Regions from separate parts of the Homo sapiens genome. Here all the other regions are reported to be linked to region 4. Evidence: microRNA targets listed by miRTarBase, many of them from high-throughput screens and not tested one by one. Region 4 holds a microRNA gene; each other region holds the end of a gene's coding sequence.

Region 1 (7,154 bases), not on the chromosome of region 4:
GGCTGCCCGCGGGGCTCGGCTTGGGGCGGCCGCCAGCGCCGTGGCGAGGGTGACTGCCGGGGTTCAGGCTGGGAATGGTCTGCTCAAAAGGAGGAGGAATCAGTGTCGAGTGTGAAAGCGTCGAGGTCTTGATTGATGAACTTTGAAATGTATCAGCGACAGGGGGAAAAGATGTCAGGCACTCAGCGAGCGACGGCTGGCTATTGATAAAACCAATCTCTCGCTCAAATTCGTAATTCATGGCCTTCTCCTTGGAGCCCCCTCAGAGAAAAAGTTCCCTCTTTTGGAGGGGCTTTGGGGGGGCAAGGCCTAGGAAAAAGGCGAGCGCAGAGGAAAAAAAATCTATCATAGAATATCGCTGCTAGGGTGTTTTTTTTCTAATTCACTGATTACAGCCGTATGGGGACCGCGCTACTATTAAACTATTGAATTCATGGAGACAAGGTTGAAATTGGACCGAATTGGCTGTCACATGATTGCTTCTGCCCAATGACAATTTGGGCTTTAATCAAAAGAAGCCACTGTCTGTTTGATTGATCCAAAAAAGTCGGGAAGGAACGCCTCATTGGGGGCCAGCGAGGCTTTATTTACACTTTTTTCAGAGCAAAAATACATATATGTTGGTGTGGGTGGGGATGTCCCGGAGTACGTGGGGGCGAGGGTGCCTGCGTGCCTCCTGATCTGCAAGGATCTATCTAGTGTGTGTGCCTGGGAGTGTGTGTGTGTGTGTGTGAATGTGCGCGAGTGTAAGCCCTGCTGTCGGTCCCGCCGGTGGCTGCCCTCTGCCTCCCCCGCACACTCCGCGCATTGTTTGGGACTGTCGGGAAGACGCCTCGCACCTCACAAATCATTTAAGCACCTCAGTCTGACGCCTGCAGTCATTAACAAAGTAATCCATTAATCTTCAAAGTTTTGACACCCGAGGGCCCTGCGTCCCAGCCACATAAGTTCTGTTAAAGCAGGAGAAAGGAGCAGAGGAAGAGAGGAGATGAGAGAGGGAGAATAAAGAGAGAGGGAAGAAGAGAGAGTTTGAGAGATGGAGAAAGAGAAGACAGAAAAGAGAGAAGAAAGGAAAGATTTTGGTTGGGAAGGGGTCTTCCTTTTCTTTCCCTTTTCCTCCTTCACTTTTCCTAAAAGCAGTTCCTGGATCTCAAAACTGATCTCTCTCGGTCTGTTTTCCTTCCTGTCTGTCCCTTTCCCTCTTTTTCCTCTTCTCCCCCTTTCTCCCTCCCTCTCTCTTCTGTCCGCCTCCCCTTCTCCCCTCAGCCTCTCGCCCCCCTCCCAGTGTCCAGCCCAGAGTCTGCGCCCCGGGCCCATTGTTAGCAGGCTATTCCACGGCAGCTTTGCATCTGGCTCCGGCGGGAAGCGGAAAACGGGAGGCGGCTCTCGAAGCTTCCCGACCTTCCTGCGCCATCAACTTCTCAGGAGTGGCTGGAGAAAGATGCATGTGCCAAGCGAGACAACAACCCCAGGTCCATGTGTCCAAATCCCCGTAGCCAGGGCGGCGGCCAGCCAAAGAAATGCCGCCCCGAGCAGGCGCGTGCGGCTCCTGGCATTCTGGGTTTCATACCCGTAGGGCTCGGGTGCGGTGAGTATTTCCGATTTCCAGGAAGTCTGTTGGAAGTTACCAGCAGGGAAAGAGAAGATGCTTGCTCCTCTCTTTCCCTCCCTCTCTCTTTTTTTTCTACCCTTCTTCTTGTCCTTGTCGCTCTGGTTGGGGGCTGGTTGGTTTAGATACAGCGAGTGCTCCCTGGCAGCCTGAACTGCCTCCCACACCTTCCTGATCCTTGGGCACCGGGGATGTTTGCTTCCGGGTTCTGTTGTGGGAAACAGCACTGCGGGGGAGAGGAGGCGACCCAAGGAGGAATTATAAAGGTTTTCGTTCTCCTTCATTATCTTTTTTCCAATTCGGAGACTTGAGACTGAGCGCATCTTGGACAGTGCTAGAGGGTTCAAAAGATAACACCTTTAGGTACCAAAAAATAATTTTTAAAAAATCCACCAAGCCAGAAAGAGGTGAGGAGGCTGAGAGGTAGATCTGGAGGTACCTCTTTCCCCCCCAAACCCTGAGGATGGTGATTCGCTTTTGCTTCCTTTGAAATAGACTAACTGATCAGACTCCCCCAGGCCGGCAGGCATCAATGGCAGGAAAATAAATCATTCTGATGGTCAGGGAGAGAGAGGTTGGAGGGGGAGAAAAATCTACGTAGAAAACAAGAAAGGCCAACCAAGGAGCAAAGGCAGGACCCCATCTCTGAGGCCAGCGTCAAAGAGGGTTTGGGGTGGAAATTAGACATAAGTGGCCTATATCATTGACCAGCCCAGAGCATTGCCTTGCAGATAGAGATGCTATTTTGGAAAATGTGAGGTTTTTTAGTTTTCTTGCTTTTATTCCAAACAAAGCTCCAAAGGAAGTCTGGGCGCGATCAATCTTGCTCACCAAAAGCCTTGACAGCTTCTAGCCCTTAAGAACACATTTCAGCTTCCAGCTCCTTCCAAGATAAAATGTGGCCGAGCAAAGAGGAGAGCAGGAAATGCAAGTAAATAAGGAAAACTAGTCTTTTAAAAAATATATTTTGGCAGTGAAAAGGGTTATAGGGCTCCTTTTAGGAAGGGTGCTTTGCGAACCCTGGGATGGCAGCTTTTGGCATCTGCTTTTACCAGAAAATATTACAGGCTTAAGGGAACGTGGGCGGGGGGTGCAGAGAGGGAGCAGCGCTGCCCCCATATCTCTGAGGCTTTGTCAGGGGCTGCGTGGGTGAGAGCTTTCTGCTGCCTCAGCCGCCTTAATTCAAATACCATCTGGAAGAAAACCCTTTTCTTTGACCACTCAACACTGAAATCTTCCCCAAATCTATTACTTTAACTTATGAGATATTTTAATAAGGATTTCTTTTTAATATCTAGGAAACTGGGGGGTGAAGTCAATACTTTTTTCTTTGAAAGCCAAAATGAATGTCTTGACTGGTAAGATGCGGGAAATCACATTAGAATCTCATTTTAAAATCTTAGCCCTGGGGGAAGGAGGAAGCCTCCAAACCACCCCTCCCTCAGCTAAAGAGTAGATTTCAGAAACGTGTTCAAATAGTGATATCCCTGAAGGATCTTCATCCTTAGGTGAATCTCTCCCCTAGCTGTTCCTTATTTTTCCAGGTAATTTTACACGTGTCTCTAAGCTGATTACTTAAAAGAAGACTCCTGTATCTGCTTAGCGTGACGAAGAGGTGGAAGCTCTAGTCTTCACAAAGCCTGGTTTTGCAGCCTCTGCATTTCTGAGGTGCGCCATATTTTGGCGCAGAGGTTGAGGTGCGGAGAGGAAATCTATTTCTCCCATAGCCCAAACCCTTTAAAAAGGATATATATATCAGCAGCCTTAGGACAGATATGGGGAAAGCACCTCTGGGTGTGAGAGAAACACTGAGCTCTCCACAGCAGCCTGGCTTGGCATCCTCCGAGCCTTTTCCTTAAACCATGAGGAGTTTCTCTAAAAGCAGCTCGTTGGGACCCAGCAGGTACCCAGAAATGGCTCCAGTGCCTGCTTCTAAGGATAATCTGAGGGAGCTTCACAGGGGGAAGATAAAGGCCATGATGATGGATATTTTGGATTGCAAACAAAATGGCGACATTTTCCACTTCTGTCTCTGAAAGATACAATCCAGGGAGAATAGGGATTTATTTCTCACATCCGATGCTCCTGATCCCCAGACGAAAGCAGTTCCTCGCTTCTAGCTCTGAAGGGGGTGATGATGGGGATGCAGGTCTGAGGTCTGCATTTTCTGAATTTGATTCCTTTCTCGAGGAATCCTTAAATCTGAAGATGAAAATATTTCCCTTTACTGTGCCTTCTTTTGCCTCTTCTAGCCAGTCAGTAAGCAGCCCTATCTTAAATCCAGGAGTGGAAATGTAATATTTAGCTCCTACAACATCAAATGAAAAATTTATAAAATTGCAGTTTTATTACAAAGATACCGATCTCCTTGCTCTCTCCCCCTCCCCCTGGGGCCATAAAAAGAAAGCTGGGTGGGGGAAGGAGAGGAAATAAATTCAGAGAATGCCAAATACTACATTCAGCAGGAAGCTAATGCTGGGATTCCGGCAGTCCAGGGAAGGGCTGGCTCAGGGTGACTCTCCCCAGTTCAGTCCTCCGTTTGCTGGAGACCTGGGTGAGCCTCAGTCCCTTTCAAACTGTTTCGCTCCGCGTGCAGATTTTTGGAGCAATTCTTTCCTCCTGACGCGATAACAGACCGCGAAGCATCCCCGGAGGAGACCAGGAGTCCGATTGCTCCCGGAAAGTGCTCGGCATCCTCTGCGCGGCTGGCTAATACCGAGGTTTAGGCGTTAGTTGGTCCGCTTTGACCCGAGGAAGAGCATGGAGCAGAAGACCGCCCTGCGTTATCCCCCGGCTGGGCCGCGGGGCACCTGTGCGCTCCCGCTGCGCCTTGGGCCGGGATGTCTTTGTTTCTTCCGTGCACAGCACTCGGCAGCCCCTGCGCCCTCAGCCTGCCTCCGCAGCAGCTGGGAACCGGGCAGCCCAGCTGGCCCGCCGCACGGCGTTACCAGAGCTGCCGCAGCCGCCTGGAGCCCCAGCCGCCATCCTGAGAATTCGCCGAGCTTCCAGGCGAATAGCCTGGCCAGGCCCCATGCTGGAGCCAGAGGGCTGCTGCGTCCGGCCTGCTCTGCCGGCTCGCCTCGGCCTGAATTCCACGCAGACCCACGTCTTCGGCCAAAGAACCCCTTCTTAACACGGATATTATTCAGAATAAAAACTTTATTTCTTTTTGTTTCTCAGAATGTGAGCAGCAAGGAATGAAGAACTCTCAAAACAAATCTAGTATTTTTCGCGTTTACAGATTTTTTTTTTCAGTTTTGCCGGATGTTACAAACCTAAATCACTGTTTTCAAAAGCTGGATCTTCTCTGGTTTTATTGTATCGTTACCGTTTAAAGGAATTATATTTCTCTTTCAAATAAAAAAAATTCTAAGTACGCCAATACACAATTGAACAAAAGGCCCAAGAACCCTTCTGAACCATCAGGGTACAGAATTCTTTAATATAAATACGAACGGATGGGGATAAATAATATTTAAAACTTAGATTATTCAATGCTTGCAAAAAAATATAAATAAATCTGACTGTTCACCAGCATACACACACGGAAAGACGTACACTTAGTCATCCTTGCACAGAGAGCCCCTGTTTCAAAGCGCCTTTGATTTTTTTTCTCACTCTTTACAAGAAGTGCAATTAAAAAAAAAATTTAAAATTAAAAAAAGTAATCGCTTCCCCTCGGGAGCCATAATGTAAGAACAAATTCACATTGAAAACTCGACTAGAAAATTTGTTCATATACCCTGTTTCTGATCAAAGAGTGGAGAAGGTAAAGGGTGCAGGGCCAGTGGCCTATCGAGGAGCAGGAAGAGATAAATATCGCTATGATACAGCCATTCCAGCAACCAAGATTGCTACGTCACATAAACTATAAAAACGCCTTACCAACGAGGGGGGAAACCGGGAAACGGAGTGCGGGGCGGAGAAGAGAGAAAAGGAAGGAAGGAAAGGGCAGGAAGAACCTAAAAAAAAAAAAAAAAAAAAGCAACCAAAGAAAAAAGGTGGGTGGGGGGAGACTCTCCTGGCGCGTAGCCCCAAGCCCACTATCACAGGTGGGTGAGCTTGGGTGCTTCCTGAATTCTTCCCTGAGAAGGATGGTGGCCGGTAAGGTCCGTGTAGGTGGGGTGCGGCTCCCCAGGCCCCGGCCCGTGGTGGTGGCCGCTGCCCAGCGGCCCGGCACCCCCATAGTCCATGGCGCCCGAGGCAGCGTGGGGGAGGTGAGTTAGACCAAAGAGGGCTGGCCCGGAGTTGCTCATGGGCTCCACATAGCTGCCCCCCACGAAGACGGGGCTTCCCTGTATGTGTGGGGTCCCATAGCTGCCGTTGCCCTGCAGGCCATGAGCGTGCGGGTCATAGTCGGGGGTGCCCCCTGCGCCCGCCCCTGCCGCCGTGTAGCGCTTCTGTGGGGGTGGCGGGGGTGCGCAGCTGGGCAGGGACGCAGGGTAGGAGGCGGGGGGCAGCCCGTAGGTACCCTGGGGGGGCTTGGAGAAGGGCGGGGGCGACTGGGGCTCATACGGGACGCTGTTGACCAGCGAATGCATAGAGTTCAGATAGCCACCGGCTCCGGGGGGCACGGGGCTGCGACTTGGAGACTGGCCCCCCGATGACGTTAGCATGCCCTTGCCCTTCTGATCCTTTTTGTACTTCATGCGGCGATTCTGGAACCAGATCTTGATCTGGCGCTCAGTGAGGTTCAGCAGATTGGCCATCTCCACCCGGCGCGGCCGGCACAGGTAGCGGTTGAAGTGGAACTCTTTCTCCAGCTCCACCAGCTGCGCGCTCGTGTAGGCCGTGCGCGCGCGCTTGGACGAAGCCTGCCCCGGCGGGCTCTTGTCGCCAGCGCAGCTTTCGCCTGCGAGGACAGAGAGAGGAAGAGCGGCGTCAGGGGCTGCCGCGGCCCCGCCCAGCCCCTGACCCAGCCCGGCCCCTCCTTCCACCAGGCCCCAAAGGTTCCTGCATCCGTCAGGTCCCAGAGAGAAGTAGGAACTAGGTGCTATCCTCTCTCCTGGTGGGTAAAACAGTGATACTCCCTCATTTAGCCAAGGAGCAAATCACAGCCTTCTCGGGGGAAAGGACAGAGAAGTAGAACCCCCGGTTTGCCTTCCTGGTCTGGATTTTCTGTTTAGAGCTATTAACTTTCTGACTCATTTACTGGTCCCTTTGGCCTATCGGACAACAGCCTCCCTGTGGGCCGGTCTCAGCATCTCCATTCTCTTCACAGTAACTGAAATGTGGGAAACCTAATGTACACACTCATTTCCCTCCCACACTGTCTGACAATAATTAGGCAGTAGCTTCAACTGGCCACTTTTTTCTCTCTACCCAGAGGAGATGGGCAGACTGGAAACCTCAAACTGGAAGGCCTTCTCTGCCCAAAGAAGAGATCCCATTGAAGGTATTTCTGGTGGGGAGGCCTAGGCCCTTCATGCTAGGTCCTATTCTTTAGGGTTCCCTATGTCATCAAGCAGCCAGCCCCAGCTTTTGTCCACTAATCTTGTACCCTTCTGTCTTCCCTGGCCCCCCAGATCCTAGCTCTGGAAGTCCC
Region 2 (7,150 bases), not on the chromosome of region 4:
CTGAGATGTGGGGAGCGCCTCTGCCCCGCCGCCCCGTCTGGGATGTGCGGAGCGCCTCTGTCCGGCGGCGACCCCGTCTGGGAACTGAGGAGTGTCTCTGCCCGACCGCCACCCCGTCTGGGAGGTGAGGGGCGTCTCTGCCGGGCCGCCCTGTCTGAGAAGTGAGGAGCCCCTCCGCCCGGCAGCCGCCCCGTCTGGGAAGTGAGGAGCGTCTCCGCCCGGCAGCCGCCCCGTCCAGGAGGTGGGGGGCAGCCCCCGCCCTGCCAGCCGCCCCGTTCGGGAGGTGGGGGGCGCCTCTGCCCGGCCCGTCTGGGAAGTGAGGAGCCCCTCTGCCCGGCCGTCACCCCGTCTGGGAGGTGTACCCAACAGCTCATTGAGAACGGGCCATGATGACGATGGCGGTTTTGTCGAATAGAAAAGGGGGAAATGTGGGGAAAAGAAAGAGAGATCAGATTGTTACTGTGTCTGTGTGGAAAGAGGTGGACATGGGAGACTCCATTTTGTTCTGTACTGGGAGAGGTTCTTCTGCCTTGGGATGCTGTTGATCTATAGCCTTACCCCCAACCCCGTGCTCTCTGAAACATGTGCTGTGTCCACTCAGGGTTAAATGGATTAAGGGCGGTGCAAGATGTGCTTTGTTAAACAGATGCTTGAAGGCAGCATCCTCATTAAGAGTCATCACCGCTCCCTAATCTCAAGTACCCAGGGACACAAACACTGCAGAAGGCCGCAGGGTCCTCTGCCTAGGAAAACCAGAGACCTTTGTTCACATGTTTATCTGCTGACCTTCCCTCCACTATTGTCCTATGACCCTGCTAAATCCCCCTCTCCGATAAACACTCAAGAATGATCAATAAATACTAAAAAAAAAAAAAAAAAAAAGAATCACGTGTACTGGTTGAAACAGCACCAATAAACAATTTAGGCTCTGAGTTGGACACAGTTTGGTAAATACATGTTCTACAATGTTCCATAGTCTTTCAGTGTCCCATGGGATATTTGTTCCCCCATAGAAAGCATAGGTAGAGGTCCTTTACATACCCTGCAGGGACGCTGATTTGCATGGGGAGGGCTGGCACACAGCCTCTGCTGGGTATGAACAGTACAAACCTCTGGAGGCTGTGCTCTGTTCAGGACTTGGAGCTGGTTGGGGACCTCCAATGCCCTGTGCTGACGGCTGGCCTGGGGGCTTCTCCTCACTAGGGTCTTCTCTCAGTCTCTCAAGGTGGGCACAGTCTCTCCTGGACACACAGGCAATGGGCTGGACAAGCATCTCTTTCCTCTAAGGCCCAGTCACCAAGTATTCCCTCCAGGGGACCGGGTTTGGAAATTTTCACTACATATAACAGCCCTTCTGTTGCCTCATATTTTCTAACTCTGGCGTGGTGGTTCCCAGTCTCTTTACCACTGAGGAAGCATAGGTGATTTCTTCCCTCCCTCTGTTTCAAAATGGTTTTAACTACCAAACAAAATCCTCTAAGTGATCATTTGCCTTTCTTTCTTTCTTCCTTTCTTCCTTTCTTTCCTTCTTTCCTTCTTTCCTTTCTTTCTTTCTCTCTCTCTTTCTTTCTTTCTCTCTCCTTCCTTCCTTCCTCCCTCCCTCCCTCTCTCTCTTTCTTTCTTTTCGAAGCGCAGTTTCACTCTTCTTGCTCAGGCTGGAGTGCAATGGTGTGATCTTGGCTCACTGCACAACCTCAGCCTCCTGGGTTCAAGCGATTCTCCTGCCTCAGCCTCCTGAGTAGCTAGGATTACAGGCATGCGCCACCACGCCCAGCTAATTTTTTATTTTTAGTAGAGACAGGGTTTCTCCGTGTTGGTCAGGCTGGTCTTGAACTCCCAACCTCAGGTGATCAACCCGCCTCAGCCTCCCAAAGTGCTGGGATTACAGGCGTGAGCCACCGCGCCCAGGCTTCATTTGCTTTCTTATACTGTTCATCAAGATATATTTAAGGTCATCATGAAGACAAGGTTACATCATTTACAATATATGGAAGTAAGTCCCAGCCCCCGTTAAGATCCTAGTCTGGGCTAGCTGGCTGAGAGGGGCTGTTAAAACTCTAGTAATAGGAATAGCTGTCTCCCTGTCATTCTGCTGCTATGGCAGATGCTTTTTTCCTCTAGGACCACTGACTTCTGGAGATCTATGATTCATAACCTTGTGGCTAGAAATGAGATGTCAAAAGAGGACAAGATCACTCGGGTTCCTCCTTCCCTTGGGTTCCCTCTCCTGGGCCAATTAAGAACAGGCACATGGAGAAAAGAACCCAGAATTATCCCATAATCACACAAAGATCTGTTCACATACAATGGCCCAAGGAGGCAGGGCCTGCCCATGAGTCACCATTATCTACATAATGCAGCCTAACTATCCTGTTTTGCTTTTAGCTATTCAAGACTTTTCCGACCATGGGGAAGTCCCATGGCATGGGCTGTTTTCCCAACAGTATCTTGACTGAATCACTGAGTGTCATGCCAGAGGAGTGGGACCTGGTTGACCCCTCTTCCCTGGTGTCCAGGTGCCCAGGAACCCCTATGTGGTAGTGGGATCCAGATCTAAGAAAGCACAGCTCTTGTGTGGCCTCATGGGGAGTACATGCCTCACTGGGCTGGTTCTAAATTGTTCCAGGGTCAAGCCAGGAGGCATAAAGAACCTGCTCTTTCATCTTCCAACATTTTTTTTTTGGTAATAACCCAATTCCCTGATTAAAACATCTACAGTGGTGTCTTACATTTTTCAAAGCATAACTCAAACATTTTTTCCTTTAGAAAAACCTAAGTCTCCTAAAACAGGGGTTCCCAAGCCCTGGGCCATGGACTGGTACCGGTCCATGGCCTGTTAGGAACTGGGCTGCACAGTAGGAGGTGAGTGGCAGGTGACCAAGCATTAGCGCCTGAGCTCTGCCTCCTGTCAGATCAGCAGTGGGGTTAGATTCTCATAGGAGTGTGAATCTTATTGTGAACTGTGCATGCGAGGGATCTAGGTTGCTCGCTCCTATGAGAATCTAATGCCTGATGACCTGTCAGTGTCTCCCATCACCCTCAGATGGGACTGTCTAGTTGCAGGAAAACAAGCTCAGGGCTCCTACTGACTCTACATTATGGTGAGTTGTATAATTATTTCATTATGTATTATAATGTAATAATAGAAATAAAGTCCACAATACAGGTAACGCGCTTGAATCATCCCAAAACCACCCCTCCGAAAAATTGTCTTCCATGAAACCGGTCCCTGATGCCAAAAATGTTGGGAACCACTGTCCTAGAAAACATAGTTTCCTCCTTGACTTTTGGCATTTTGTACGTTTCTTTCAGCGCTAACCACAATAGTTATCTTCAAGTCTGTTTATTCATTGTTACTAAATCTTAGATTCCTTCAGCGCAGGAACCTTTCTCGCCCCCTAGTCCCACCCTGGACCTCACAACATTCTTTGAACACAGGAAGGGTTCGATAAATATTTGTTAAAGATCCCTTGGAGTCTGGCTTAAAAAGATTTAAGATCTAAAACTGAGGAAGGCAGATCTTTGAGGTGAGGCAAACATAGCCTGCCGATATGGCAGGAAGTAGAAATGGGCAGACCAAGTAGAGAAGGAAAATAGTTCTATACTCCTTATGAGTAGTATATAGGAGTGGGATAAAAAGTAGGATATAGGAGTCCAAATTTCCATCAAATCTATAGATTGATTTTCTTTGCATTAATTAAGACTTCTGGTGGAACGTGGTGGCTCATGCCTATAATCCCAGCACTTTGGGAGGCCAAGGTGGGTGGATCACCTGAGATCAGGAGTTCGAGACCAGCTGGCCAACATGATGAAACTCTGTCTCTACTAAAAATACAAAAATTAGCTGGGCGTGGTAGCAGGCGCCTGTAATCCCAGCTACTTGGGAGGCTGAAGCAGGAGAATCACTTAAACCTGGGAGGCCAAGTTTGCAGTGAGCCAAGGTCATGCCATTGCACTCTAGCCTGGGTGACAAGAGTGAAACTCAGTCTCAAAAAAAAAAAAAAAAAAGACTTATTTGTTGTTGCTAAAATGCAAAGATTCTGGGCTTATGAAGAAACTAATACTCCAGTAGGAATGCTTGAAATAAAAATATCTACCACTAACTGAAACCTAAGTATCAGGTTGCCCATCTTGTGTTGCTGTAATATAATACGCAGACTGAGTAATTTATAAAGCAAAGCAGCCTATTTCATGGTTCTGGAGGATAAGAAGTCTAATATCAAGATCCCGGCATTTGGTGAGTCTTTTTGCTGTATCATCTCTTGGTAAAGGCAAGTGGGTGAGTGAGGGCAAGAGGTTGAACTTGCCTCAACCTCAAGCCCTTTTATAATCAGTATTAATCCATTCATAAAGTTGGAACCTCCATGGCCAGCCAGCCATTAGGATTCACTTCCCGATATGGTTGCATTGTGGATTCAGTTTCCAACACATGCTTTTTGGAGGACACATTCAAACCACAGTACAGGTACTTTATATTAGCTTTATAATGACTCTCCCAAGAAAACAGTGCCACGTACAAGATGAGGAACTGGAGCTCAGACAGGTGAAGCCCCACCGCGTGTCACACAGGAAGAAATGGCAAAGTAAAAATTCACACCCAGGACTCCCTGGGCTTTCTCACCGCACATGTTGCCTTCTTACTGGATATCACCTGACAGAATGAGACTCAGGTGATTACAGGGATTCACCAGGAAAACGGGAAAGTCGGCATGACCAGAACTAGAACATGGGCCAGTGAATGCAGTTCTGGGTGGACCATGGCATTGGAAGCCAAAGGATAGCTTGAATGTGGTTAAAAAATTAAAACAACAAGGCACAAAACGCACAAATGAAATACAAATGATGCTCAAACACAGCTTTTATTTTACTTCAAAGTTTACCTCAGATCAGCCTGGGAAGGTGAGGGGAATGAAGCAGATGCTGTTAAAGGGTCATGGGAGAGAAAAGGTATCTGTGGGAAGAGAATAATCTCTTTTGACTTCGTGTGCTGCCTCACGGACACACTGGAGCAGGGATTGGGCCCCCAAGGCCTCAGGTAGCCCCGTGCCTGTGGCTTTGCTGGGTGCAGCCTACGTGGCTGCTCGAATGGGTTGCAGGCTGGTGCCTAAAGCTTTCCCAAGGGGGCGCTGCATGCTGCCACTGACTCCACAGTTCTGGGGTCCTGGTGGTGGTCAGGTCCTGCTCCCAGCGCTCCACAAGGCACTCTCTCCTGTGGCCTGGATCCACTAGACACTAGACATTTCCCTGGTGGGGGCCCTCTGTGGCAGCTGCACCTCACATTTCCACTTAGCATCACTCTAGTGGAGGCTCTCTGTGGGCTGGGCATGCTAGCTCAGTTCTCTTTTCCTCTTCTTATAAAGCCACCAGTCCCATTCCTGTGATAACCCATTAATCCATTAACCCATGAATGAAGGCACAGCCTTACGATCCAATCACATCTCAAAGGCCCCACCTTTCAGTATTGCCACATTAGGGATTAAGTCTCAACATGAGTGTTGGAGGGAACATTCAAACCACAGCAGTATGAAAACAATATTCAACTCCAAGGTATATGGTCAAGATTACAGGTGGTAAGGAATAGGCTAGAGAATAGGAATAGGCTAAATTTGCTAGAGATGTGCTGTGGAATTATCTGTATTTCTAGCTATGATCTTAGCTTCCTCAAGTCCATTTCATTGCAAGAATATGAAAAATTAAATTGAGATCCAGGTTCTTTTTTTATTTTTCAATTTTTATTTTTTGAGATGGCGTTTCACCCTGTCACCCAGGCTGGAGTGCAGTCGCACAATCCTGGCTCACTGCAACCTCCGCCTCCCGGGTTGACGCCATTCTCCTGCCTCCGCCTCCTGAGTAGCTGGGACTACAGGCCCGTGCCTCTGCGCCCAGCTAATTTTTTGTATTTTTTAGTAGAGACGGGGTTTCACCGTGTTAGCCAGGATGGTTTCGATCTCCTGACCTCGTGATCTGCCCTCCTCGGCCTCCCTAAGTGCTGGGATTACAGGCATGAGCTGCCGCACTCTGCCCAGGTTCTTATTTTTAATAGAAAAGAGAACAGGGAAGGAACACAGGTCAGTGTGAGGAAGGGGGTCATGGTAGACACAGAGGTGGACTGTTTCTCTACCTCCTCACATTGTGCTAACAGGGACACAGACAGATTCAGAGGCCCTTGCAAAAAGAGAAGCCAGAGTCCCCTAAGACACATAGGGGAGGCGTGAGGAAATCCTGCATCTCAGTCGCACACAAGGCAGCTGTGCATCTCAGTCGCACACAAGGCAGCTGTCTCAGGCTACAGAAGAAAATAGTCATGAACAAATTCAGGTCAGTCACGGTAAGTGATGACACTCTGAACAGCCCACCACACACTCAAAAATTCTGAATCAAAAAATCCCCACAACCCAGTCCTGTCCCCTCTGCCCCACCCTCCACCCACTTCAGACCCCCAGAATCTCACCTTTACAAGCTGTGAGACTCAGACCCCTGGGCACTGTCGCTCCCTGGGGTAGAACAAAAACAAGACCTGGTCAGAGCCCACAGGAGATGTGGTGCAGGAGGAATTATAGGGTGGGCGAGCTCCTCCACGCTCCCGCCCCGCACTTACACTCAGCCTTAGAGTAGCTCCCTCCTTTTCCACCTGTTGGAAGAAAATGTCCTGTGAGGGGCCAGGGAGGAGGCAGGGCCATAAGGTCCTAGAGGAACCTCCTAGTTTTGGATCCCAGAGAAGTTTCCTGAACTGTGACTGCAGACCCAGGGCAGGATCAGGAAACGTGAAGAAAGCAGGTGTGGGTCCTGGATCAACTGCCCTTCTGAGGTCTGTCTTCAGCAGGGACCTTCCCCTGTGACCTGTGACTGCTGGGATCAGGTCCCCATCACCACAATCGTCAAGGTGATAAATCTGTCCTTCATTGTCACAGGTGCTTTACAAAAGAGTAGGTGCGGCTGGGTGCGGTGGCTCACGACTGTAATCCCAGCACTTTGGGAGGCCGAGGCAGGCAGATCACAAAGTCAGGAGTTCGAGACCAGCCTGGCCAACATAGTGAAACCCCATCTCCACTAAAAATACAAAAAAAAAAATTAGCCAGGTGTGGTGGCACGCATGTGTAGTCCCAGCTACTAGGGAGGCTGAGGCAGGAGAATTGCTTGAACCTGGGAG
Region 3 (7,154 bases), not on the chromosome of region 4:
GACATCTGACTGTTTTGTTTTTAGTGACTGTCTTTGGAGAGAAGGACTAGATCTGAATGAGGAAGATATATACACACATGCACTTTTTTGAACCCACAGATGCAGAATATATTGTATGGATGCACATAACTTTTTTCCAACATTTTATTATGAAAATGTTCAAAATATAGGAAAGTTGAAAGATTTGTACATTGAACACCCATAGACCTACCATCTAAATTCTACAATTAGTATTATTACATTGCCTTATCACTATTTAGCCATCTGTTGGTCTGTATTATTGTGTTTGATGCACTTAAAAGTAAATTGCAAACGTCTTTACATTTCACCCCATGTCAGCATTATATCATTAGAGTTCAGTAGTTGTTGGGTTTTTTTTTCCCCCTTAAAGTAGATAATTTTTTAATCTGTCAAGGGAAAAGTTTCAGGAAACCTTTTCTTTGCTTGAAAGAGCTCAGTATAGGAGAGCGCAGTACAGCATGATAGAACTAGATGAGATCAGGATCTGGAGTCCCATGAACGAACGCCCGCCTATTTGAATCCTGGGTCTGCCCCTTAATACTGGCGGTACCTGGCCCAAGTTCCTTTACCCTTCTGAGCCAGCATGTTTCATCCATGAAAAGGGCTAGGATTGTTGTGAGGATTTAAGAAGACATAAAGTAACCAGCACAGAGTAGGTGTTCAGCAAATTGGAGATCACTTCTCAAACTACTGCGTGGCATGTGGGTGGCCCATAAGACGTGACTGAAACCTCTGAAATGGTCTTTCCCTTCAGAGCACTCTGCTATTTGGTCCTGAAGCAGTACACAGAAGCAGTGAAGGACTGCACAGAAGCCCTCAAGCTGGATGGAAAGAACGTGAAGGCATTCTACAGACGGGCTCAAGCCCACAAAGCACTCAAGGTAAAAAAAAATCCTGGCCAAAAGGTCCCAACATAGCTACAGAGATTTATGCCAGTGTCACCATTTACAGGGTGTAGCCAAGCTGAGACAATATCTGCAGCTTTTCCTTCTCATCCTGGGCCCAGGATAACTCAGAGCAGGCCTGTGGGCTGGGGTTTGAAAACACTTTGCTGCCTCAGCAGCTATCCCCACCCCAGTCCGGGAACCTTCCCCCACACTCCTGTCTTTTCTTCTATTAGGACTATAAATCCAGCTTTGCAGACATCAGCAACCTCCTACAGATTGAGCCTAGGAATGGTCCTGCACAGAAGTTGCGGCAGGAAGTGAAGCAGAACCTACACTAAAAACCCAACAGGGCAACTGGAACCCCTGCCTGACCTTACCCAGAGAAGCCATGGGCCACCTGCTCTGTGCCCGCTCCTGAAACCCAGCATGCCCCAAGTGAGCTCTGAAGCCCCCTCCTCAATCCCTTGATGGCCTCCCACCCTGTAAGAGGCTTTGCTTGTTCAAATTAAACTCAGTGTAGTCAAACACAGACATGGTTGTTGCACCAGAAAGGTCCCCACTAGAGCTAAGCGTGAAGCTGAAGCTCTGTCCCTATTCCCCCAGCCCAGCTAGCTGATCACACCAACAGATCCTCATCAGCAAAGCATTTGGCTTTGTCCTGCCCAAGTGGGCTGCAGACTGAGTGCTGCCCTTGTAGCTTCCCCAGACCCCAACTCACTGCAGTTCATCTGAACAACCTGAGCTCCTGGGCCGGGGTGGAAGGAGGGGGATAAACCTAAGGCCCTGATCCAAAGCAGCCTGTTGAGCTGGTTCTCCAGGGCTGCAGTCTCTCCAGGTGTACAGCTGCTGTCCCTGCCCTGTCCTGTCCTTGCACAGTCTCCTATGTCTGAGCCCCAGTGCCTTCTGTTCGGGCCCTCCTTTGGTGGGAAGGCAGAGCCCTGACCCTTGAATGGTTGTCCTTGACTCTGTGCTGCTGCCTTCTGCAGAGAGGCACCTAAGCTGTTTAAAGAGCCCAGTGATTGTGGCTGCTCCTCCTAGAGGTGGGAGGGGGCAAGAGGCCTCCTTGGTCAGTGTCCATGCTTTCTGGGCAGGGACTTGGTTTTTTGTTCCAACAGTGGCCTTCTCCGGGCTTCATAGTTCTTTGTAATATGTTGAAGTTAATTTGAATTGACTGATTTTGTTGAACTGTGTGTTTAAGCTGTTGCATTAAAAAGCTTTCTTCTACATCAATATCTGCTGTGCTTTCATTTATGCCTTTTCAGCTTTGCACCTGGAACTCTGTAGTAATAATAAAAGTTATTGCTTATTGGGCATTCATTCATTTGTTGAACAAATTTATTGACATGTCTGCATGGGCCAGGCACTGTGAATAGTGCTAGGGAGATAGATAGATAGCAGTGAATAGACACAGCCCCTGCTCTCAGAGGGCTGGTAGTCCAGTGGGAAGGCAAGAAGTTAATCAGACAACCACACACATGTAAAATTGCAGCTTGCCTGAGTGTTGTGAAGCAGTCGTCAGTGATTTCCCTGCCCAAAAGGGGAAATTTGATGCAGTGGAGGGAAGGGGGTCCCTGAGTAAGTAAAGCTTGAATTGAGTTCCAGATGGGGAGGTTAACTAGTGAAGAGGGGAGGGAAACACCGTGGACAGAACGGCCATGTAAGGCCCTCATTGGGAGCACAGCCAGTGAGTACAGGGACCTAAAAGGGCTGATGAAATTCACAAAACATGGTATGGGGTGAGGCTGGAGAGTGCTCTAGGATCTAGCTAGAATCAAGGGCTGCCTCCCTTTCCTGGGCTGGTTTTCACCTAATGGAAGTAGAGTTTTAGGATTCCACAGAGCAGAGTAGACAAAGGGGTCTGATCATCCCTTGGCTCCCATCACATAGTGCTAGGCAGCACTCGGCGTTAAGCACACCACCTCTGAGCTCTCTTAAGGATGAGTCTGTTGTCTGAGCCATCACAGACATCCAGGCTGAAGCAGAGTTAGAGTCAGACAAACCCCATCGGCACAGTCAAGGGACAGTTTCAAAGTGGGGCACCGTACCCCTTTTATTGCCTCATAAGCAGGCAGGACTGATGTGAGGCAGGTTTCGTGACATCCAGTCACAACTGGTTTACATCATTCTGAGCTCTAGAAGGCAAGCAACTTGATTTGCTAGTGAAGACACAGAGGGTGGGGCCGGCACAACCCGAAGAGACTACTCATTTTGTACTTCAAAAATGTCTGAAGAACACAACATAAGCTTCCTCATCCCCATCACTCATCTTTGAAATTTAACATCATTCAGTCTTTTCCAGAGATGCTTTGAGGAATAAAACTTCTGCTTCTCATAGGTTAATGTTTCTAGGAGAGGGACACACAGCTATCAATGTGACTGTCTTAATGGTCATGATGGAATTCTACCCCGACTCCCAGAGAAGGTAAAACACCGTTACGTGGGAATGACAGGGCAGAGAGCAGATCATGCAGGGTCTCCTAGGCTGTGTAAAGTAGTCCTTATTCTAATGATGGGAAGCTACTGCAGGATTTATGCAAGGATGAGACATTAGAGAGGCATTTTGAAAGAAGCCTTAGGACTGCATGGTGGAGGACAGACTGCGGGAGGGCCAGGGTAAATGCAGTTAACTGGCAGAAGGCAGTGAGCGCAGGGGTTGAGCTTAGCTCAAATTAGTGGATTTATTCCACTAGGTAGTGGTAGTGGATTTGGATCTGGTAGGAGGTCATGTTGGTGGATTTTCTCTGGAAGAGGGGAGGAGAGAAAGTGGTGTGGCAGCAGGGCTGGGGAAACCCTCTGATTTTGGCTTTTGCAACAGAATGGTGGGGCCATTTATGGAGACAGAACACTGGAAGAGAGAATCAGAGAATAAGACCGGGCACGGTGGCTCATGCCTGTAAACCCCACCCGAGGCGGGTGGATCACCTGACGTCAGGAGTTCGAGATCAGCCTGACCAATATGGTGAAACCTCATCTCTACTAAAAATACAAAAATTAGCTGGGTGTGGTGGAGTGCACCTGTAGTCCCAGCTACTCTGGAGGCTGAGGCAAAAGAACTGCTTGAACCCAGGAGGTGGAGGTTGCAGTGAGCAGAGGTCACGTCACTGCACTCCAGCCTGGGTGACAGAGCGAGACTCCGTCTCAAAAAAAAAAGAACCAAGGAATGAAAAAGAAAGAAACTTAGTTAAATCATAAGCTTGAATTTAGACATGAGTGTTACCAAGATAACCAGGAGCTGATGGCAGGTAGGCGGTGGAATGTAAGAGAGGTGACTCAGGTGCTCTTAAGAGTTGACTGGGCTGAAGAAAAAAACAGGGAGTCATCCTCGACTGGGTACAAATGGAAGATGCGCTTGTAAATTAGATAGCTCAGGAGAACATGGCATGAGAAACCGAGAGGGCCCAGGACTGAGAGTAAAGAAATGCCAGCAGTCAGGATTTGGGGAGAAGACGATGGAGCTGCACAGGGAACAGATTAAAAGCAGCCAAAGAAGTGGGCAGGACATGGTGAAGACAGGTTGGAGGTCTGTGGAGCGGAGAACAGGAAGAGTGAGTTGCTGAGAGTGGCAGAGCAGCCTTGAGGACTCGGTCAGATTTGTTGCTGGTGAATTTTTAGCAGAACCCAGTCTGCTTGGGTCATAGTAGCCACTTTCACTGGGCCGCTCCGGTACACGAGAGGGCAAAGACCTGGACTGTACGTCCCTGATGGGAGGTGAGCACTAACTGACACAAAGAAGCTTTTCGAGAGACTTCTCCATTAGGGGAGGAAAATCCTGACCTGGGAAGGTACCCTAAAACGTTCCTACAAGGGTTAATTATGTTACACAACCCCTTAGCCAGCCGAGAAGCAGCTGGGTGTTTGCCCTGCAGGGTGCCCAAGCCAGGGGCTGCATGCACATCAGATGGGGGCCCCTGTAGCTCTGGTCCATTGTGTGATATCCATGTCATCATCCACTGTACTGTTGATGGGTCAGTTCCTAACACTTCTCCTGCTCTTGTGTATATGCCCTCTGTGTACTTCAGCACTCCTTTAGGGTTTCTGTTTCTTAGAGCCTGAGCCCCACCCCAGTCATGTCTACCGTTTGCTCTGTCCCCACCTCCCTCAGACACAAAAGGGCCTCCTGGGAGGCAAGGCAGATTTTGCAGCACTTTTAATACACAAAGCAAAAGGTAATAGGCTGGATGGGTGACCAACCTTCATTCACATACAGAGCCCAAGTATAGATACAGACTAATTGGGAAATAAGTTAGAGTTTGCAGGGCCTTAGGGCTGAGAGCCAGAAACACTGTCCTTTTGGCAGCCATGGAAGCGAGGATTTCCTTTTCTGAGGACAAAAAGGTAAAAATAAGTGTTTTTAAAGTATGGCAGACACCCAGTCTTCAATAAAGAAGGTGGTTACATCCTGGCCAGGCCTTCAGGCAGGCAGAATGGAGCCAGGCAGGGCCCTGGGAAAGCCCAAACTATTCTGCATGAAGCCAGGCAGGGCAGCTGGCAAGAGGGCACCTCCTTCACCCTCCACCACCCCCCATTCCGATCACAGTTAATCATCTCCTCTGATTCTCACAACTTCCTCCAAACTCTTTGGTGCTTCAGAGAAAGCCAGGAACACGGCGCAATTCTCAGTGTTTGTGAAAGTCAGTCCCTGCCTATTTCCTTACAGCTTCTCCCGGGCTCAGCTGCTTCTGTCACCATTCCACCCACCTGGTTTCAGTGCATGTACGCCTTCGGCTGCTCCATAGCCTGGTGTGCCTGCAGCACGGCCACTGCCTCGTCTATCTGTGAGACATGAGTGGCGGGGGGGCTTAGTGCAGCTATCTTAGCAGGTCACAGAAGAGCCTTGATCTCCCCCTCGCTCACCATCCTGGATACAGGATCCTCCTCCATCCACAGGGTTTCTGTGGAACCCTCCCATCCACCACTGCTTGCAAGATCCCATGGCCCTGTCTGTCACCTTTGACACAGAGGTACATTGCTGGACAGCTGGAAAAATCTTAACCCTTACACTGAGTCACAACACACTTCCTTGTACCAAAAGACCTACCTACAGAACAACACAGAATTAGTCTACGGAAGGGCTGAAGTAGCAAACCCTTACCTAAGGCCCCTTCCACTCTTAAGATTCAGCAGGCCTTCAGGTATTAGCAAGAAGAAACACTTTATCTGGCCAAACAGCTATCCACTGGCTCCACTAGGAGAGCCCTTGTCGTTAGCTCTCCTCCTGCCCCCTCGGGCTCCCTGCTGCCCAGGCTCCTGCTTACCTTGGCATGGAGGGATTCTGGAGACTCCAGCATGAGCAACAGCTCTGAGTTGTCAATCTCCAGCAGCATGCCCGTGATCTTGCCAGCCAGCTGGGTGTGGACATCATGGATAAGGGGGTAGAGACGCTCCCCTGTGTGGAACACCTTCTAATGGCTTGTGCACGGCCTAGCTCACACCCCAGCATCCCAGGGCTCGTATGGAGTGGAGCACTGAGGACATCTGGGTTCTTCTCCCAGAACTGCTCCTTCTAGGCTATGACATTTAACACTTGATCTTCTAACATCAGGTACTTTTAATGACTGGGCCTGGTATTGGTGGTCAGCCCATCTCAGCAATGTGTCCAGGGCCCAGCCAGGACTGGGTGCCTTAAGTGGGGGCGGAAAGGATCGTCCCATGAAGAAAGTGAAAATGTTTACAGAGAACTACTAACAAAGACTTCTACTTCCATTAAGCTCATTCAAAATGTTTCTGGGTGAGGCCAGGCATGGTGGCTCACACCTGTAATCACAGTACTTTGGGAGGCTGAGGTGGGTGGATCACCTGAGATCAGGAGTTTGAAACCAGCCTGGCCAACATGGTGAAACCCCATCTCTAATAAAAATACAAAACTTAGCTGGTCATGGTGGCATGTGCCTGTAAGCCCAGCTACTCAGAAGGCTGAGGCAGGAGAATCACTTGAACCCGGGAGGTGGAGGTTGCAGTGAGCCAAAATCGTGCCACTGCACTCCAGCCGGGGCAGCAGAGCAAGACTCCATCTCAGGGAAAAAAAAAAAAATTTCGGGGTGAGGGGAAGGGGTAATGTGGCAAAACCCTAAGTAAGCTGAGGAAACAATGGGGCAGTGGTAATGGGGGCCTTCAGTAAAGGGTCTGGAGGTCTCGGGGGCCATGCAGTAAAGAACCTGCCAACCAGGAACAAGCTTGTGTTCACTTAGTGGCATTTTTATCAGGGCCTGCCATGGACACTAGGGGTGAAGATGAATTGCACAAGGA
Region 4 (7,000 bases):
CGTCTTTAGTTTGGCTCTTATAGGCGGATTCATTCTGAGTCATTCCTGAAGGCCAAGCTCACCCTGTGCTCCCGGAAAGACACAAACACCGCCACGGCCACCACAACAAAAGGCGCCTCCCCGAAGTAGGTCTGATGTCCGCGGGACGGGTGGGCCCGTCGTGGAGCGCACTTCTGCGCCTCTAATCTCGGGCGTCCATCTGGCCCGGGCGCGCTGGAGGGCTCCGGGAGGGGCGGGGCCGCGCGCCTCCCAGGCGCGGGCACGCGCGCCGGCTCTCCTTCATGTTCACCTTGACTGCGGGGGGGCGGGGGATGGGGCGATCGTCCCCCTCTCCCCGACTCCTCTCCCAACCCCCCGCAGCTGTCCTGCCCAGACGCCCGCCCAGGCGGGGTGGGGGAGGCTGCACCGGCGCTCAGGTCGCCGCAGCGGCCCGGCAGCCGCCGCAGTGATGTCAACCGCATCCGCCGCAGTCCCCGGCAGCCCTAAAACGCGCCGCGGCCCGCGGAAACCCCAGCCCGGCTCCTCCCGCCAGGGCCGAGGAGGAGAGGACGCGCGGGTCCCCGGAGTCCCCCACTCCGTCTGCCTAAGCCGTGGAGACCGGGAGTGGACGCACGGCGGTGCCTGGACCCCCGGGGAGGTGGAAGAAGAGGAGAGGGAAGGGAGCTGTGGAGTCAGGTGTCGATTTGACGCCCGCGGCCGCCGAGGGGACTCTGCCCGGCACTGGTGCCGCCTGGGGGGCGTTCAGGGAGCGTGGGGCGCCGACCGCTGCAGATGCGGCGGCGCGCGTGGGCTCGGGCAGGCGCCCCCTTTTCCCGGGATAGAAACGGATAAACGGAAGCGCGTGTGAGTGTGGGGGTGCGAATCGCCACCTCCGGCCTTGGCTTTCCCGCTCTTCCGAGCTCTCCCACTTCTCACTTTCCCCAAATCCGCATTTTCCTTGGCACAGCTCTCCCCGAGCACGAAGGAGAGGGAGGTACCCGGGGGCAGTGAGAATGACGTGTGCTGGTGCAGAGGGGGTGGGGGTCTGCGGGCCTGGATCTGTGGACGGGCTCCTAATCCTCTTGTTTTCGGAACCGTCAGCAGATGCGGCTTCCTTTACCTGAATAATCCTTTAAAGGAGTAATAATTTTTAAAAAGGAGCTCGACCTCAGCCAAAGAGGACGGCGCACGAGATTAGGGCTTGGTAAGGAAAAATTAAAAGGCTCCCAATTCTCTCTGTCCCTCTCTGCCTTCCCCTCTACCCCTCCCCCTCCCTCCTCCACCCTCCCCTCCCCTCCCCCTTCTTCCTCATCCCCTGCAATCCGCGCTCGACGCGAGTTCACGCGAAGGGCTGGATTTCCAGGCGGCTCCGCAACTTGCGCGGCGCGGTGTTATTATTCATCCGAGGGTGCTGCCTCCTCAACCTTTGCCTCCTGCGCCGCTCTCCTTCCCCCGGCCGCCGCCGCCAGCAGTGCAGTCCCTCCGGCACGCATGCTCTGGTTCACCAAGAGGGAGACTGATTTTTTTTAAATCATGCTCATCATCATCATCATCATCATCATCATCATCATCACGTTCCTTATCATGGTTATCATTTCCTCCTGCCAGGTGGAGCGACCACCAGCGCCGGCTCGCCTCCTGCGCCTTCCCCAGCGAAGGCAGCAAGCAGTTCGGGCTTGGCCGTGGCGGCCGCTCCCAGGATGCTTCCTGCACCTCCAGCATCCCCCCCCTTATTCATCTGCCTGTGTATTATCTCGATCCTTTTCATTTCAGTAGATCCACTGCCTTTGGTTGGGCCGGCTGAATCGCTGGGGACTGCGGCCAGTCTCTTAAAAAAGGAGAACAAAAAGCCGAAGACCTTGTGTGGCCGCCGGGACAAAGCACCTTGGGTTCGGCGAGAAGGGACGCGCAGGAGCGCTGAACCCAGAACACGCGTGGCCGCTGCGGAAGGGCGTCCGCCCGGCGTGCGGAACGCTGAGGGTATTCGGATTGTCTTTTATTTGTCCCTGTGGCTTGCTTTCACAGTGTCTACGTAGGAGAGGGGTCGGGGTTGTTGGGGTCTCTTTTTTTTTCTGGGAGGGGTAGCTGAATTGTGGGAGACCTAGGTGGACTTGACTTGGCTTTCCTGCTACTCTGCGTCTCCTTCTCAAGATGCGGGGGTTGGAAAGGGGACAGGGGACTCAAGGCTTAGAAAAGAGAAGGAGCCCTCTGCTGCCTGGAGGGCTAAGGGAGTAGAGAGTGGAGATGGAGGTGAGTAGGGATGGGCCAGCCCGAAGAGCACTGAGGAGGAGAAGGGGTCTTCTCCTCCCTCGGGTCCAGTGGATGAGTTTTGCTGGGAATGAGAATTCGGGTGTCTGTCGATAGGAGCGCTGAGAAATTGATGAGAAATTGACATGTCCGTGCACATGCATGAGGCGGCGACAGGATTTGTGTGTAAACAGTGTGGAGAGGTGGAGGAGGGCATGGGGGTGGGGGCTTAAAATGATGTCTTATTGTCCTTTTGGCTTTAGGGACTCTCATCCTCTGTCTCGCCCCCTTTTTTTGACCCGGGGATCCAGCCGCATTATACACGAGTGACCTTTTAAATCTACGTCCACCCTTTACCTGGTAAAGCCCGCTGACAGTTGGGGGTGGGGTGGGGAGAGTGTAGGGGTGCTCTCTCCCTCTCTCCCTCCCTCCGCCTCTCCTCCCTCCCTCCCCCCTGCACTCCTCTCTCTTCCTCCCTCCCACCTCCCTCGCTCCCGCCCTCCCTGCTGCATTTTGCATGAGCTATCTAGGTCATTAGCATTTTAGCGTATGCAAGACTTGACAAAGCTGATGAGGGGCCAGATGGGCCTCGCTCTTATGGTTTTTTTTTCTTCTTCTTCTTCTTCTTCCTCTCTCTCTCTCTCTCTCTGTCTCTCTCTCTCTCGTCTCTCTTCCTTTCCCCCCTCCACCACTTGGGACCTGAGCGAGAGGACTGCAGCAGGCGAGTTCCGGAAGGCTGAATCCCCAGGTCCCAGCCCCGGACCGCGGCAACTCGCCCCTGCGGCACGCCCGGCCCGGCTGCGCCCCCACTCAGCGATGGAGGTAAAGAGGCGGCGGCCGCGCGCCCTGCCCCGGCTGCCGCTGCCGAGTCCCCGCTGCTCTCCTTGTCCTTCGCTCTCTTCTTCCTCCTCCTAGTCCCCTTCAGTTTCCTGGGCGAAGCAGAGGGCGACATGGGTGGGTGGGTTGCTGCGCTGGGGCGAGGTGGGGTCGATGTTGTTTTTTCATTGTCTGGAGCTGCAGGGGAGGCGAGGCGCGGGGAAAGGGGCGAGGGGAGCCGGGGTAATTAACACGGGGGAGGCACCCCTCCGTCTCCCACTTCCACCCACACCCCCATCCCTCCACCCCCTCCGCTTTGCAGGAAAAAGCCTGGATGCGAAAGGATGGGGGAGAACAAAGAGCCTTTGGAAGACGTCGCTGTTATCTCATTGTCTGTGTGATTGGGGGAGCTGCGGCGGGGAGGATGCTGTGGTCCCTTCCTCCGGCGTTCCCCACCCCCATCCCTCTCCCCGCTGTCAGTGCGCACGCACACGCGCCGCTTTTTATTTCTTTTTCCTGGTTTTCTTATTCCATCTTCTACCCACCCCTCTTCCTTTCTTTCACCTTTCCTTCCTTCCTTCCTCCTTTCCTTCCTCAGGAGAAAGGCCTCTCTCTCCGTGTTCACAGCGGACCTTGATTTAAATGTCCATACAATTAAGGCACGCGGTGAATGCCAAGAATGGGGCTGGCTGAGCACCGTGGGTCGGCGAGGGCCCGCCAAGGAAGGAGCGACCGACCGAGCCAGGCGCCCTCCGCAGACCTCCGCGCAGCGGCCGCGGGCGCGAGGGGAGGGGTCTGGAGCTCCCTCCGGCTGCCTGTCCCGCACCGGAGCCCGTGGGGTGGGGAGGTGTGCAGCCTGTGACAGACAGGGGCTTAGAGATGCAAACAGACTCAGGGAGAGAAACAGAAGCTGATTCTGTGACAGAAGCAGATCTGTGCAGCACAGATGCGGTGTGCGTGGGGAGGGGGTCGCCTGGGAGCGCATTGCGGAGTGCTTGTGTGTGCAGATTTTTCTCTGGGCTCAGGACTCATTGTATGTGGGTCAACACCTTCCTCCGTGACTGTGTTTTTGTTCTGAGCTGAGTTTTTTGGTTTGCCCTTAAAAAAATAATAATTTGGCATCCAGAGACTGGCAGACTGCCTCAGGGCCTGGACTGCGGATATATTGTGTTCTGCTTGAGGTTTGGGGAGGAGGGCAGGCGGTAGGAAGGGAGAGGGGGAGCTGTTTGTCACACTTTGCTGTAGAGCTGAGAGCACCTGACAAGCTTAAGGAAGTCGTTGGGCTATGTGGACAAGAAGGAGCCAGCTCCCAGCGGGTTCACAAGCTCTATCGGAGTTGAAAGCGTGGTCATGGCTCTAAGGAGCACCTCACGCCCTCCCTGTAGCTGTTATTGCAGTTTCAGGCAGAGATCCAGGAGCTGCAGAGGAAGGGAGAGGCACAATAACCTACATGGACCCAAGGGAGACATGTGTTCCTTTAAAAATGTGAACAGAAGGAAAAACAGAATGTGTGCAACTGGGGGTCTGAGGAAAGACTGTTTTGAAAGAGGCTGTCAGGGAATGGAAAGGGTTAAGCTTTTCATCCTGAAGAACCTGCTTCCCAAATCAGGCCTTCCTCCCATCACTAGACCCTGAGCAGCAGCTGGTCCTAGAGACCCCCCTCGTACTGCGCTGCCACAGTCTCATCCCATTTCCAGCTCTGTATTAACCACCAAGCTGCAGCGGATGGGGCAAGACCTAAGCTCATTAATTTCCAGGTGGAGGAAATGGAGGAGGGGCAGGTCCCTGCAGTAGAGGGAGGAGCAGAGAAAGGAGGCCAAGAGCTGGATCCTTCTGCCCAGGAAGCCTGCTGCATCCCTTCCCCCGAGCATGGCAGAGGCCTGGCTTTGCAAGGCCAAGGCCATAAGGGATGCTTAGGAGATTAATTTGATTCCTGACACAATAATCAAGCCCTAAGAGTCTCCACTGAAGCTTACTGAGGACTTCTTTCCTCTCCAAAGCCTCAGTCTAGCCTGCTAAATAAATTAGTATTCAGTGATGCCTTGGATCAGGGCCCCTCCCCGGCCTCAGTTTCCCCAAATATTTATTAAGTACCTACTGTGTGCAATCCTTGTGTAATTATTAACTCTTAGGCTCTTCATTTGCCCTCCTAAAGCAGTGTTTAGAGTCAGGCAGAGGTTAAGTGTGTTGCACCTCACCTAGATACTTCCAGAACCTTCTCTGGGTCTGCAGAATGTGGCACAACCTGCTTGCCCCCGCAGAGAGAAAGCTGCAGTGCACATCCTGCAGACTGCAGGTGCTGGGCTGCCTCTGGAGTCCCAGAAGGCAAGCTTGGCTGCAGGACAGAAAGGGAGAACAGCTTCTCTCACCCCTGAGCCTTCACAAGCCCTTGTCTATTTGCCGTTGCCTTCAAAATATACCTCCCCCGAAACCAGTAGCTTTCTGAGTCCTGGTGTCCCCTCCGCCCTTTCTGGACAGGTTTGGGAAGAAGAAAGCAGTCAGTGCTGGGCCTTATTGGGGTGTGAAGCGCCTTGCTCTGCCCCTTCTGCTCACTGTGAAGGCCGCTGGATGCTTCTCTTAGGCATGGTTTAAGCCTCCGATTACTAAACCCCTTGCCCCACAAACGTCCACATTGACGAGCCTCTTTTTAGTAACTGCTTCCCCGTAATTCCTTCAGAGGTTGCTGTACCCTTCGCTGATGTGCTGCCCTCCTGTAAAACCTCCAGATGCCTTCCCACGTAATGCCCCTTTCAGATGCTTTAAGCTGAGAGCTTAAACCACAGGTACCATGGCTGACGCCTGCCAGGTTTCTGCTGCAGATAATCTATGATGGGAGGGGCATATTTTTTACTTCATTACTTATGTAAACTCTTGTTCCAGAAAGCTTTAATGTGTGTGGGAGTGTTCTGGGTCTATTAGGTCTGTGCGCATGGGTGTGGGCATTTGCCTGTGTCCACCGGGTGGGTCTCATTATGAAATGTATGTTTATGTAGGGCTTTAATGGCTGAAAATGGCAAAGAGATGAATAGACCACTTGGCCCCATGTGTAATTGCCAGGCCCCTTCTGTGCTCAAATGAGGTGTCCGAGTGAAGGTCAGCCCTTCCCTTCTGTATTTGGGGCCTATTTATGCCACCAGTAATTTTATAAGAAATCTGAATAGTTCTCCCCTTTGAGTGCATTTAACTCTTTAGTATCTTCTCTCTTACCTATTTGAGCCCCTCTAGCTACAGTCTGGCTTAAATGAAAGGGGAATTATATGCTTAAGAAAAAGTAGGACACGGTTGAGGCAGTTTGCTGACTGAATACGCGAAGAAGGACCTGATGGGCTCATATGCACCACTGCCATCACAGTCCCCATCGTGATGCAAGCTTATATGATTCTTGAGGTAACTCTACCAGATACTTCCAGATTTAGAAATGTGTCAAAGGAAAAATTGGTGATACTCTTCTTTCCCCTGCCAGAAACAGCCCAGATCTCCTCTTAAGCGGAAAAGAGATTGACCTTCTAGCAGAGGCAAAGGTAAACTCCTGTAAGTTACTTCTGTTACCAAAGGGAGGGGGGCGGCTTTTGTGAATGTATGAGGAGCTTTTGCCAGAGAGATATTCGGAGGAGGGGTGTGCCCATATGCACACATATATTTTCCCGCATAACCGTATCCAATGCTAGCATTTAGAGGAAGGCATTTAGCCACCAAAAGTCCATCCATCTATGCTGCTTCCACAGAGAAAACATTTTCTCTTTCCTCCTCTTGAACTTACATAATATCCTCCTCCCATTCCAACCTTAGAATGGAGTCTTCTGGGGGCAGCTGCAAAGCGTTCTCCCTAGGACAGATGGAGCCTCCCTTTCCTCATCTACTCTGTGGGTGGTTTCAGGGCCCACGAGTCAACATGAGGAGTTGTGCTGGTGGTATGTGTGTTGGAGGCTGGGCTGGCTGATTCACAGTGACGAGGATG

The links. Region 4 holds the annotated microRNA hsa-miR-124-3p (UAAGGCACGCGGUGAAUGCCAA, at 3,698-3,719, shown strand). A microRNA usually pairs through its seed, bases 2 to 8, with sites in the 3' UTR of a target mRNA and lowers its output. Matches are read on the target gene's strand: a 7mer-m8 pairs with bases 2 to 8, a 7mer-A1 pairs with bases 2 to 7 and ends in A, and an 8mer does both.
Region 1: miRTarBase lists HOXA3 as a target of hsa-miR-124-3p. The part of its 3' UTR that is shown has no 7-base or 8-base seed match.
Region 2: miRTarBase lists HLA-E as a target of hsa-miR-124-3p. Seed matches in the 3' UTR shown: 7mer-m8 at 5,411-5,417 and 7mer-m8 at 5,197-5,203.
Region 3: the mRNA of TOMM34 is a reported target of hsa-miR-124-3p. Seed matches in the 3' UTR shown: 7mer-m8 at 1,805-1,811.

The regions. Positions count from the first base shown.
Region 1 is chr7:27,102,260-27,109,413 of GRCh38, forward strand. It overlaps HOXA3 (homeobox A3), which reads right to left. Exons shown (of 6, transcript NM_153631.3): 6 at 4,751-6,461. The coding sequence ends at 5,656. It overlaps HOXA2 (homeobox A2), which reads right to left and starts at 424. Exons shown (of 2, transcript NM_006735.4): 1 at 1-424. The coding sequence starts at 241. RefSeq lists an enhancer at 259-1,098.
Region 2 is chr6:30,491,885-30,499,034 of GRCh38, reverse strand. It overlaps HLA-E (major histocompatibility complex, class I, E), which reads right to left. Exons shown (of 8, transcript NM_005516.6): 6 at 6,599-6,631; 7 at 6,452-6,494; 8 at 4,841-6,286. The coding sequence ends at 6,454. Among named protein-coding and RNA genes, the nearest start is that of HLA-E, 6.0 kb to the right of the region's middle.
Region 3 is chr20:44,937,201-44,944,354 of GRCh38, reverse strand. It overlaps TOMM34 (translocase of outer mitochondrial membrane 34), which reads left to right. Exons shown (of 7, transcript NM_006809.5): 6 at 776-902; 7 at 1,142-2,225. The coding sequence ends at 1,246. It overlaps PABPC1L (poly(A) binding protein cytoplasmic 1 like), which reads right to left. Exons shown (of 15, transcript NM_001372179.1): 13 at 6,164-6,294; 14 at 5,607-5,681; 15 at 5,039-5,229. The coding sequence ends at 5,613. Among named protein-coding and RNA genes, the nearest start is that of TOMM34, 20 kb to the left of the region's middle.
Region 4 is chr8:9,900,118-9,907,117 of GRCh38, reverse strand. It overlaps MIR124-1 (microRNA 124-1), which reads left to right and starts at 3,646; the gene lies at 3,646-3,730. It overlaps MIR124-1HG (MIR124-1 host gene), which reads left to right and starts at 3,789. Exons shown (of 3, transcript NR_024281.1): 1 at 3,789-6,429; 2 at 6,506-6,563; 3 at 6,832-7,000. LOC124902057 (a long non-coding RNA gene) reads left to right here. Exons shown (of 4, transcript XR_007061170.1): 2 at 1,756-1,959; 3 at 2,490-2,586; 4 at 2,931-3,048.